Linked DNA regions of Homo sapiens: region 2 is reported to be linked to region 1. Evidence: microRNA targets listed by miRTarBase, many of them from high-throughput screens and not tested one by one. Region 1 holds a microRNA gene; the other region holds the end of a gene's coding sequence.

Evidence for each region. Region 1 holds the annotated microRNA hsa-miR-5189-3p (UGCCAACCGUCAGAGCCCAGA, at 2,762-2,782, shown strand). A microRNA usually pairs through its seed, bases 2 to 8, with sites in the 3' UTR of a target mRNA and lowers its output. Matches are read on the target gene's strand: a 7mer-m8 pairs with bases 2 to 8, a 7mer-A1 pairs with bases 2 to 7 and ends in A, and an 8mer does both.
Region 2: miRTarBase lists TAF13 as a target of hsa-miR-5189-3p. The part of its 3' UTR that is shown has no 7-base or 8-base seed match.

Annotation. Positions count from the first base shown.
Region 1 is chr16:88,466,223-88,471,294 of GRCh38, forward strand. It overlaps MIR5189 (microRNA 5189), which reads left to right and starts at 2,696; the gene lies at 2,696-2,809. All of the region lies in intron 1 of ZFPM1 (zinc finger protein, FOG family member 1), which reads left to right.
Region 2 is chr1:109,059,875-109,064,943 of GRCh38, forward strand. TAF13 (TATA-box binding protein associated factor 13) reads right to left here. Exons shown (of 4, transcript NM_005645.4): 4 at 4,266-4,819. The coding sequence ends at 4,649. Among named protein-coding and RNA genes, the nearest start is that of TAF13, 14 kb to the right of the region's middle.

The DNA of each region.
Region 1 (5,072 bases):
GTGATCCTGATGGCGGCCGTGGTTAGACAACAGCTCCGTTACCCAGCCCCGGCAGTTCTGGCATGGAGTACTCTGCAGCCCTGGGAGGGGCGCCTATGACCTCATTCTCCTCAGAGAACTGAAGGCTCAGCGAGGTTGAGTAACTCACCCAAGATCACACAGCATGAAGAGAACAGAAGGGACCCTGGCTTCTGGCTTAGAGTCTAGCCGAGGTCAGAGTCTCCATCCTGGCTGGAGGTTCTGGGGTGTTTGCAGTGGGGGGCAGCCCACGAGCCTCCCAGGGGGCTCACCCGTACCTTTCAGGGAGAAAGGCCAAGCACAGAAAGGGCAGGGGACGGCTGAGGGCCGCACAGCCCATCCTGGCAGTGGGAGGGGATGGGCGGAGGCTGGCCTGCCTCTATTCTTGTTTCTTGGGTTCATTTCATCTGTCCCCAGAAAATAAGCTCCTTTGGTGAGAAAGTTGGTTTCTTTCTAACTTTTGGGTTTGGTTTTGTTTCAATATTCTAAAAGGAAGTCAGCTATTTCCAGTGCAGTGGGGTGTGTATGTGGGGGAGGGGGGTAAATGTCAGCTCCAGTGACCAGCGTTTAAATCCTGCCCCCTGGCCGGCAGCCTCTCAGTTTCCTCACTTGTATCATGGGCATGATCACAGTTCCAGCCTCCTTGGCCTTTGAGGAATTAGGGCAGAAGTGGGTAAAGCATCTGGGGCCCTTGTGCGGCAGGGCTCAGTGAACCCCAAAACGGCGGTGGTATTAATGGGGGGACACGAGCCGGGGCGAGGGTCCCTGGGGTGGGGCCACCTCTCCAAAGCCCTCTCTGCCCGCAGCCCACCCTCCCTGAATCCTACTGGCATTCTTCCTGCACGGTTTTCCGCCAACGGCTACAGTGTGCCGATGACCTCAGTGATGTCACCTAGGGCCTCGTCCCATCACACAGCGGCCAGAGTGGCTCCAGAACATTTGTCCCTGTGATCCAAGAGTCTACCCCTTGTCAGTCCCCCATAGTTGCCACAGTCACCCAGACCAGGAGCCGCAGCAAACAAGCAGGGGGTACAGCATCTGTCCCCATGGCCCTGGTTCTCACACACATCCCAGAGTCTCAGGTCTCAGTTTCCTCATCTGTCAAATAGGGCCGACACCGCTAAGCCTGCCCTGCAGGCCATGGCCAACCCCCCTGAGGTCTCCCCACCCCTCCCAGCGGTGCCCACCCAGGGCTTCTCGAGGAAGGAGCTCAGCACCCGCCCCAGTGACACTTCACTTCTCTGGGCTTTGCTGCCTTTTCCTATAAAATGGGGTGCCAGTCGCCCTCTCAGAGTCCTTTCAAGGAGCTGATGGTGTAGACCGCGAGACCTGCCTTGCAGGGCACATGCGCAGCTGCTCCTGTCATGCTGGGACCTCCGGACCCCGGGCCTCGCAGCTGCCTTGGATCCCCTCCCTCCTCCAGTCACGGGCTCTGGGCTGGCTGCTGGGCGTGTTGGGCACAGCGGGCCCTAAGCTGACCCGTGCCCTTTGTGGCTGGGACCTGAGATGGGGAGGCCCCCACCCCCTAGTTCCATGGCTTTGGGAGGTGGGGGTGGGGTGTTTTCTACTCTACCACCCTACAACGAAAAAGAAGAAAAGAGAACTTGATAAAAAAGGGCGATGCGTGCTGTGCGGTGGAGGAGGTGCTATCGCCGTTATCTATCTGCTTGCTCGAGCTGAGCGGCCCCCCTTCCCCTTATCTCACCCCACCCTAATGCCAGGAACAAAAGTGAGAACACACTCTCAACCCGCACACCCGCGAGCCCCCCACCGCCCCTCACACACCCGCGAGCCCACCGCCCCTCACGCCCCCGCGAGCCCACCGCCCCGACCCACCCGCGAGCCCACCGGCCGCTGACGCACCTGCGAGCCCACCGCCCCTCACGCACCCGCGAGCCCACTGCCCCTGACCCACCCGCGAGCCCACAGGCCCTGACGCACCCGCGAGCCCACCGCCCCTCAAGCACCCGCGAGCCCACCGCCCCTCAAGCACCCGCGAGCCCACCGTCCCGACGCACCCGCGAGCCCACTGCCTGCGGCGCACAGAGCCACCAGATCTAGAGGGAGAGCTGAGCACTCGGGGTGCTCTGAAAGTCATCATCATCATCATTTTGCAAAGAAAGCCCCCAAATAGCCCTCCCTGAAACAAGGCAGCCAAAAATAAGAAGTCGCTCTCAACAGGCCCCCACAGGAGAAAAGAGGCCGGCCTTGGAGAGGGGTTGGGACTTGGGGCCAGGTCCCAGCTGTGCCGGCCTCTTGGCTGTACGACCTTGGACCAGTATCTTTCCCACTCAGAGTCATCCCTGAATGGATGTCAGGGAGCCTTCGAGGAAAGGGGAGAGCCTGCACTGTAACTGAAGCCCCCCACCAGCCCCATGCAGCTTTCTGACCCTAGACTTGGGGCTGGGACCAGTCACCCAGAATCTGATACCCCCAGGGCCCCGCCCCCCAGAGCCCCACCCCCATGGCCAGGGCACCACTGTCCTAACCAGCCTGTTGGCAGCCAATGGAAATGGGGTATGCAAATGAGCAGGGGTGAGGCCCAGGGATTGGCTGAGCTGCTGTGTGGGGGCAGGGCCTCCTCCAGGGGCTGCCCTTGACCTGGGGGAGTAGTTCCCATCCTGGACCCTGCCCCAGGACGGGAGACCTCTGCCACCACCACCACCGGCTCTGGAAGGGCCCGCCTTTTAGGGGCCTCGCTGTCTGGGCACAGGCGGATGGACAGGCTGGCCTCTGGATGACCTGCCAACCGTCAGAGCCCAGACCCACGTGGCCTCAGTTGGGGACCAGGACCCAGGAGTTCCCGAGAGGAGTGCAGCCAGCAGCCACTCCCAGATGGGAACAGCGAGTTTCACAACCCGGCAGGGACGGCCCTGGGGCCAGCCAGCCTCCCACCCCCATGTCTGGGCCCACTCCAGACCCTCCTGCAGGCTGCCCCCCACCGCTCCACCCTCTCCCCGCGCTGACTTCCATCCGGAACCTCATTCTGCCAAGCTTCTGAAGTGCCGGCCGGGCCAGGGACGTGGCACCATCTTAATGAATGACAGTCCCAACCCCTTTGCCCACCCTCAGCCTCCCCATCTGTAAAACCGGAAGGCGGTCTAGTAGGTCTGCCTCCCAGGATGGTTTCTGGGCTCTTCAGCAAGCCCCTTGCCGGCCTGGGCCTCAGTTTCCCCTTCCACACCATGAGGCTGAGGTGGCAGGTTCTCTGGGGGTCCTCCTGTCTGTGGCTGTGGCATAGCCTGGAAACCTGGGGTCTTCCAGATTTCCCATTGTCAGAAATTCATGTGCCAGGAGACCATGTCTACAGGGGGCTTAGGACACCTTAGGGGGCATGCACCTGTGTTCTGCATCCACCCACACTGCACAGTGGGTCTTGCTGGCAAGACCAGGATGAGGCAGGCTCCGCCGGCCTGAGACCTGGCTGGAGGCCCTGTCAGCTCCCACGGCACCTGAAAATCAGCCACAGGTGTGGGTGTTTGTCAAAAATGTGTAAGTGGAAAATAGTGGCGGGGCGAGGAGAGAAAGAGTCTGGGCTGAGATCTAAGGAGAGGAAGTAGGGAGGGGCCGTCCGACCAGAACCAGACATCACCTTGGCCAGGGCCCCACCCCCTAACGTGGGGTGCAGTGCCTCTCACGTGGTGAGGGTCAGAGGTGCGTGCCCAGCCCAGAGGATCTCCCCACGCAGCCCTCCCAGTCTGCAGAGGGGTCTCCACACATGCAGGCAGCTCTGTCCTCTCCCAGGACAGCTTGGGGCATACAGTAGGTGCTCCATAAATACTCCCCAGCTGATTTCTGGATCTGCTCCCTGTGCCTGGCTGTGTCCCCAGAGGCAAAGCAAGCAGAAGGAAAAAGGAAACGGAGAAAAAGCCAGGGCCTCCAGAGCCAGCATTGTCCTGGGCAAAGGCCCCTCCCGTGTAGGAGCATCGCCTGTGGAGAGCCACGGTCCTTGTCCCTGTGCTGGGGCTGTGACTCACTCCTGCGGGGTCCTTGCTGTCAGGGCCACCCCACCTGTCCTGGGGACAGGGCTGCTGGACGGGTTGGGGCGGGCAGCCTCTGGATGCCCACGGGTGTCCCCTGTACTCTCCAAACCTGTACTGAGTGCCTGCTGTGTGCTGGGCATGGTCCAGGGACCCCAGGTGACCTCATGGAACCCCAGCCTAACGAGGGAGAGTGAACACAGGGGTCTGACGTGCTCTGTGGCAGAACCACTGGGGAGGCTGTTGTTGGGGGACTGGTGGTGTGGAGGGCCGGGTGGTGACACTCAGTGACAGGTGAGGATGTGGCACGGTGTGGAGGGCCGGGTGGTGACGCTGAGTGACAGGTGAGGATGTGGCACGGTGTGGAGGGCCGGGTGGTGACGCTGAGTGACAGGTGAGGATGTGGCACGGTGTGGAGGGCCGGGTGGTGACGCTGAGTGACAGGTGAGGATGTGGCACGGTGTGGAGGGCCGGGTGGTGACGCTGAGTGACAGGTGAGGATGTGGCACGGTGTGGAGGGCCGGGTGGTGACGCTGAGTGACACGTGAGGATGTGGCACGGTGTGGAGGGCCGGGTGGTGACGCTGAGTGACAGGTGAGGATGTGGCACGGTGTGGAGGGCCGGGTGGTGACGCTGAGTGACAGGTGAGGATGTGGCATAGGGAAACACATCCTCGCCGAGCGCACAGTGGGAGCTCCGAGCAGGGGATGAGGTCGTCCAGGAAGGGGCGGGAGACGCAGCGTGACGCACTGACCCAGGGCCCAGCTCAGATGCCAGTACCTCACCCGGTGGGGTCCAGCCTCCGCGACAGGCATTCCCTTCCCCGTGTGCCCTTGCCAACTACATACTGGGCTGCCCAGAGGCTGCCTTCTGAAGGAGCGAGGGGGCCGGGAGGAGGAAAGCCCAGCTCCCCTGCAGCCATGATAGATAGACCAGACTTTTCCTCTCCACTTACTCCGCCCTGACCGCGATGGGCACTGAGAATTCAGACAAGAGCCGGACTCCCTGAGCTCCCAACCAGCTGACCCTCCAGGGCTGCAGCCATGTGTGACCTCCACCCTCGCGAAGGCCAGC
Region 2 (5,069 bases), not on the chromosome of region 1:
AAGGGATTCTTTTGCCTGACTCTCGAATAGTTGGGATTACAGGCTCCCGCGACTATGCCCATCTAATTTTTGTATTTTTATTAGAGACAGGGTTTCACTGTGTTGGCCAGGCTGGTCTTGAACTCCTGACCTCAGGTGATCCATTCGCCTTGGCCTCCCAAAGTTTTGGGAATATAGGCATGAGCCATCGCACCCAGCCAGATTTGCTTTAAAATAATACTGCCCCCCTACCTTAAAAAAGGTAAGGGTTCTAAAACCAAGGTCCAAAATTAAAAATAAGAAAATTATTTAAAGGTAGGGGGATAGGACAAATTGGCAAAAAGTTGGTTACTTGTTGAAGCTGGGGGCTAGTTACACTATTATTGTGTATACTTGAGATTTTCCATAGGAAGTTTAAAAAAAAGTGAATTAATTTAGGAGAGAGCACCTATATATACTCCAGATCAGCACTGTCCAAAAGAATTTTCTGTGATGATGGCAGTGTTCCATATCAGCACTGTCCAATGCTGTACCCACTTACCATAAGGGTTTTGAGCACTTGAAATATAGCAAACGCAACTAAGGAAGTGAATTTTTCATTTTATTATCATTTTTTAAATATTTTATTTTTTGAGACAGAGTCTCACTCTGTTGCCCAGTCTGGAGTGCAGTGGTACGATCTCGGATCACTGCAGCCTCTGCCTCCTGGGTTCAAGCAATTCTCCTGCCTCAGCCACCCGAGTAGCTGGGATTACAGGCACGTACCACCACACCCGGCTAATTTTTGTATTTTTGGTAGAGATGGTGTTTCATCATGTTGGCCAGGCTGGTCTTGAACTTCTGACCTCAAGTGATCTGCCTGTCTTGGCCTCCTAAAAAGCTGGGATTACAGGCGTGAGCTACCGCACCCAGCTGAATTTTTCATTTTAAAATGTAAACAGCCATATGTGGCTAGTGGCTACCATTTACACAGTGCAGCTCTAAATACTGGAAGACAGCCATGCCACCTTACTACCAGAATTTGAAGTTAATAAGTAAGCTCAGGCATCAAGTCAGCCCGCCGAGCCTCTTTCCCCTTTTTGCTAATAGCAGTATCTAGTATCCCAATCCCATTCCAAGCTCTTTTTTACCAGAAGTGGGGCAAGAGATCCGGGCTATAGTACAACTTCTTCCTGGCCATAGTGACTGGTCCAGGAAGAAAATAAGCAGAGCTCGGATCCTCATAATCCTTGCTTGGAATTTTCTCTATTACGAAGTAAAGCAGCTTCTTCAATTTGGAGTTGTAAGGAGGGAACCCCAGAACTGCTGGCCATCATGTTCATTTGCCACTCTTAGAATAAAACCAAAATTAGGATAAAAGACAGAGAGACAGTCTTGCTTCTCAAGTACTTAGATCCAGTCAACCCTAAATTCAGCTCCATCCCCTTTCCCATGTGTCGGTTAGGTAAGCCAATAAATTCCTTGTTTATGCTATTAATAGTATTGAGTTAAGTTATATCACTTGCAACCTAAAATAGTCAACGCAAAGCCCCACTCAGTCTGGGCAACACAGTGAAATAGGTTCTCTAGCCAGGCATGCCTGTAGTCCCAGCTACTCGGGAGGCTGAGGTGGGAGGATTATTTGAGCACAGGAGGTCGAGGCAGTGAGCAGTGATTGTGCCACTGCACTCCAGCCTGGGTGACAGAGTGAGCAGTTTACTGAAGCCTTGACCTCTCAGGCTCAAGTGATTCTCCCACCTCACCTCCTGAGTAGCTAGGACCACAAGCGGAAACCACTGTGCCTGGCTCTTTTTTTTTTTTTACAGAGATGGGGCTTGCCTAGGCTGGTCTCCAACTCCTGGGCTCAAGCAATCCTCTCGCCTCAGCCTCCCAAGCAGCTGGGACTACAGGCATGCCACCACGCCCGGCTAATTTTTTTGTATTTTTAGTAGAGACAGGGTTTCACCATGTTGGCCAGGCTGGTCTGGAACTCCTGACCTCAAGTGATCCACCTGCCTTGGCCTCCCAAAGTGCTGGGATTACAAGTGTGAGGCACTGTGCCTGGCCTTGATTTTTAGTTGAGATGGGGTCTCTCTATGTTGCCCAGACTGGTCTCCAACTCCTGGGCTCAAGAGATCCTCCTGCCTAGGCCTCCCAAAGTGCTGGGATTATAGGCATGGGCCATGGTGCCCAGTCCTGCTTTTTTTTTTTTTTTTTTTTTTTGATACGGGGTCTCGCTCTGTCCCCCAGGCTGAAGTGCAGTGGCGTGATCTTGGCTCACTGCAAGCTCCGCCTCCCGGGTTCACGCCATTCTCCTGCCTCAGCCTCCCGAGTAGCTGGGACTACAGGCGCCCGCCACCACACCCGGCTAAGTTTTTTTGTATTTTTTAGTAGAGATGGGGTTTCACCGTGTTAGCCAGGATGGTCTCGATCTCCTGACCTCATGATCCACCTGCCTCGGCCTCCCAAAGTGCTGGGATTACAGGCTTGAGCCACCGCGCCCGGCCCAGTCCTGCTTTTTTAAATGAAAAGATTCACCCAGATACTCACTGAAATAAAAAAAATTTTCAGCTAGACTAAGCAGCAAGAATTATCATATTACCAGTAATGGGCATAATATTCTGGGAGGAAAAAAAGTCACAAATCAGTCAGATTCAAGGATCAACCTGTTTAATTGTTCATATTTTATTCCTGTATCAGTAGATTAAGAAAGTAAAATTTTCCCAAGCACTGATTTATAGATCATGTTTATAAGCAGCATACAAAAAGTTAAGTTTCATAAACAATAACATTCAGTGATCTACTTAAATCCAATTGTAATCCTTACTTTAAACTAAGGGCAATAATAATTTAATACATAGAGTAAATACACACAAAACCTGTGTATTCAGAACTACAAACATGGTTTCCATAGCCACGTATGGTTTTAGTCAAGGACACATTTCCACAATGAACAAGTACTTACAAATATGTTAATAAAACACTAACCCAAATGCTTACCCTGCCATCAGCTTTTTAAACAATGCCATTCCTGCTACTGAAAGCATTTATTTTTAGAAGCTTGAATCTGCTCTGGGAAAACGGGTTCTCCTAAAACTTAACAGGATGTTATAAATCCGAAAAGATTTTAAATCAAAAAGCCTTCCAACACAGCATTATTCATGTGAAACTTGCTTTCTTTTTTTTTTTTTTGAGACGGAGTCTCGCTCTGTCGCCCAGGCTGGAGTGCAGTGGTGCGATCTCGGCTCACTGCAAGCTCCGCCTCCCAGGTTTACGCCATTCTCCTGCCTCAGCCTCCCAAGTAGCTGGGACTACAGGCGCCTGCCACCGCGCCCGGCTAATTTTTTGTATTTTTAGTAGAGACGGGGTTTCACCGTGTTAGCCAGGATGGTTTCGATCTCCTGACCTCGTGATCCGCCCGCCTTGGCCTCCCAAAGTGCTGGGATTACAGGCGTGAGCCACCGCGCCCGGCCCGTGAAACTTGCTTTCTTAAAAAATAATAATAACTTGTTATCTGAAGAAAATTAAAAGATTATCTTTTAAGAGAGATAAACATTCTTACAAAAAACTATATTTTCCTCTATCATCTCTTTAAAAGAAATGCAAACCAGTTCATTATCTTTGTTTTTTTGAGAGTCACACTCTATTGCCCAGGCTGGAGTGCAGTGGCGCCATCTCGGCTCACTGCAATCTCTGCCTCCTGGGTTCAAGCAATTCTTCTGCCTCAGCCTCCCAAGTAGCTGGGATTACAGGCACATGCCTCCATGCCTGGCTAATTTTTTAATTTTTAGTAGAGGTGAGGTTTTGCCATGTTGGCCAGGCTGGTCTGGAACTCCTGGCCTCAAGTGATCTGCCCGCCTCAGCCTCCCAAAGTGCTGGGATTACAGGTGTGAGCCACCACGCCCGGCCTAGTTCATTATCTTTAATAATGAACTAGACAATAAACTAATTGTTGTCTAAAAACTTCTGAATACATGAAGTACAAGTCTGAGCTGTCAAGTCAAAAATGCCATTTAGATTTCACATATTAAACAGCTATAGTAGGCCAGGCGCGGTGGCTCACACCTGTAATCCCAGCACTTTGGGAGGCCGAGGCAGGTGGATCACGAGGTCAAGAGATCAAAACCATCCTGGCTACCATGGTGAAACCCCGTCACTATTAAAAATACAAAAAGTTAGCCAGGCGTGGTGGCAGGCGCCTGTACTTCCCAGCTACTCGAGAGGCTGAGGAAGGAGAATCACTTGAACCCGGGAGGTGGAGCCTGCAGTGAGCCAAGATCACGCCACTGCACTCCAGCCTGCCAACATAGTGAGACTCCATCTCAAAAAAAAAAAAAAAAAAAAAAAAAGCTACAGTATAGCTTACAAGGGCATAAACATACCTAACACATTAAATACTACTTTATCCTTTAAATAGTCAAAAGTCAGAACAACGGCATGGTTTGCAAGGTACTTTGACTTATGTGTGGTCATTAAAACCCAGTAAGTAATTCAAGTATGGTAATATAAAGGCAGGCAATTACATGCACCAATATCACCCTAAAATCAAAGGCATAAAAATAAAGGCTGAAAACTTTGTGTTTCTCCATCTTTCATTTACATGGCTAGATATCAGAATCTTACTTTAGAAAATATACAATTATTATATATGGTTTCCCCAGATGGTAATTTTCGGAAACTACAAAAAGTGTCAAGATCCATAATTTGCTTCATCAAATGCTTTTCTAGCTCGTTTCAATTCTTCATTCATAGTAAGCAAGTCTTTAACCCTGGCAAACTTCCTTGGGTCCTTTCGAATCAAGAAGACGATATCTTCAACTTGTACTCGACCTTGTCTTCCAATTGACATTGCCTTGTGAGTCTATTACAAAGAAACATATTACATTTAACTTTTTTAAATCTAATATTTTACTGTTTTAATTTGCATTTATTAATTGCAAGTGAGGTAGAAGATTTTCTCTTATTATTATTATTATGGCTATTCATTTGTGAATTATCTTTCTACTCATGTCCTTTGTCTATTTTCTACTGGATTATTAGCAATGTTCTCCTTTATGCTTCACAGGCACTTTAAAAAAAATCTTAAGGACATGAAAGCTGTCAACTTTATT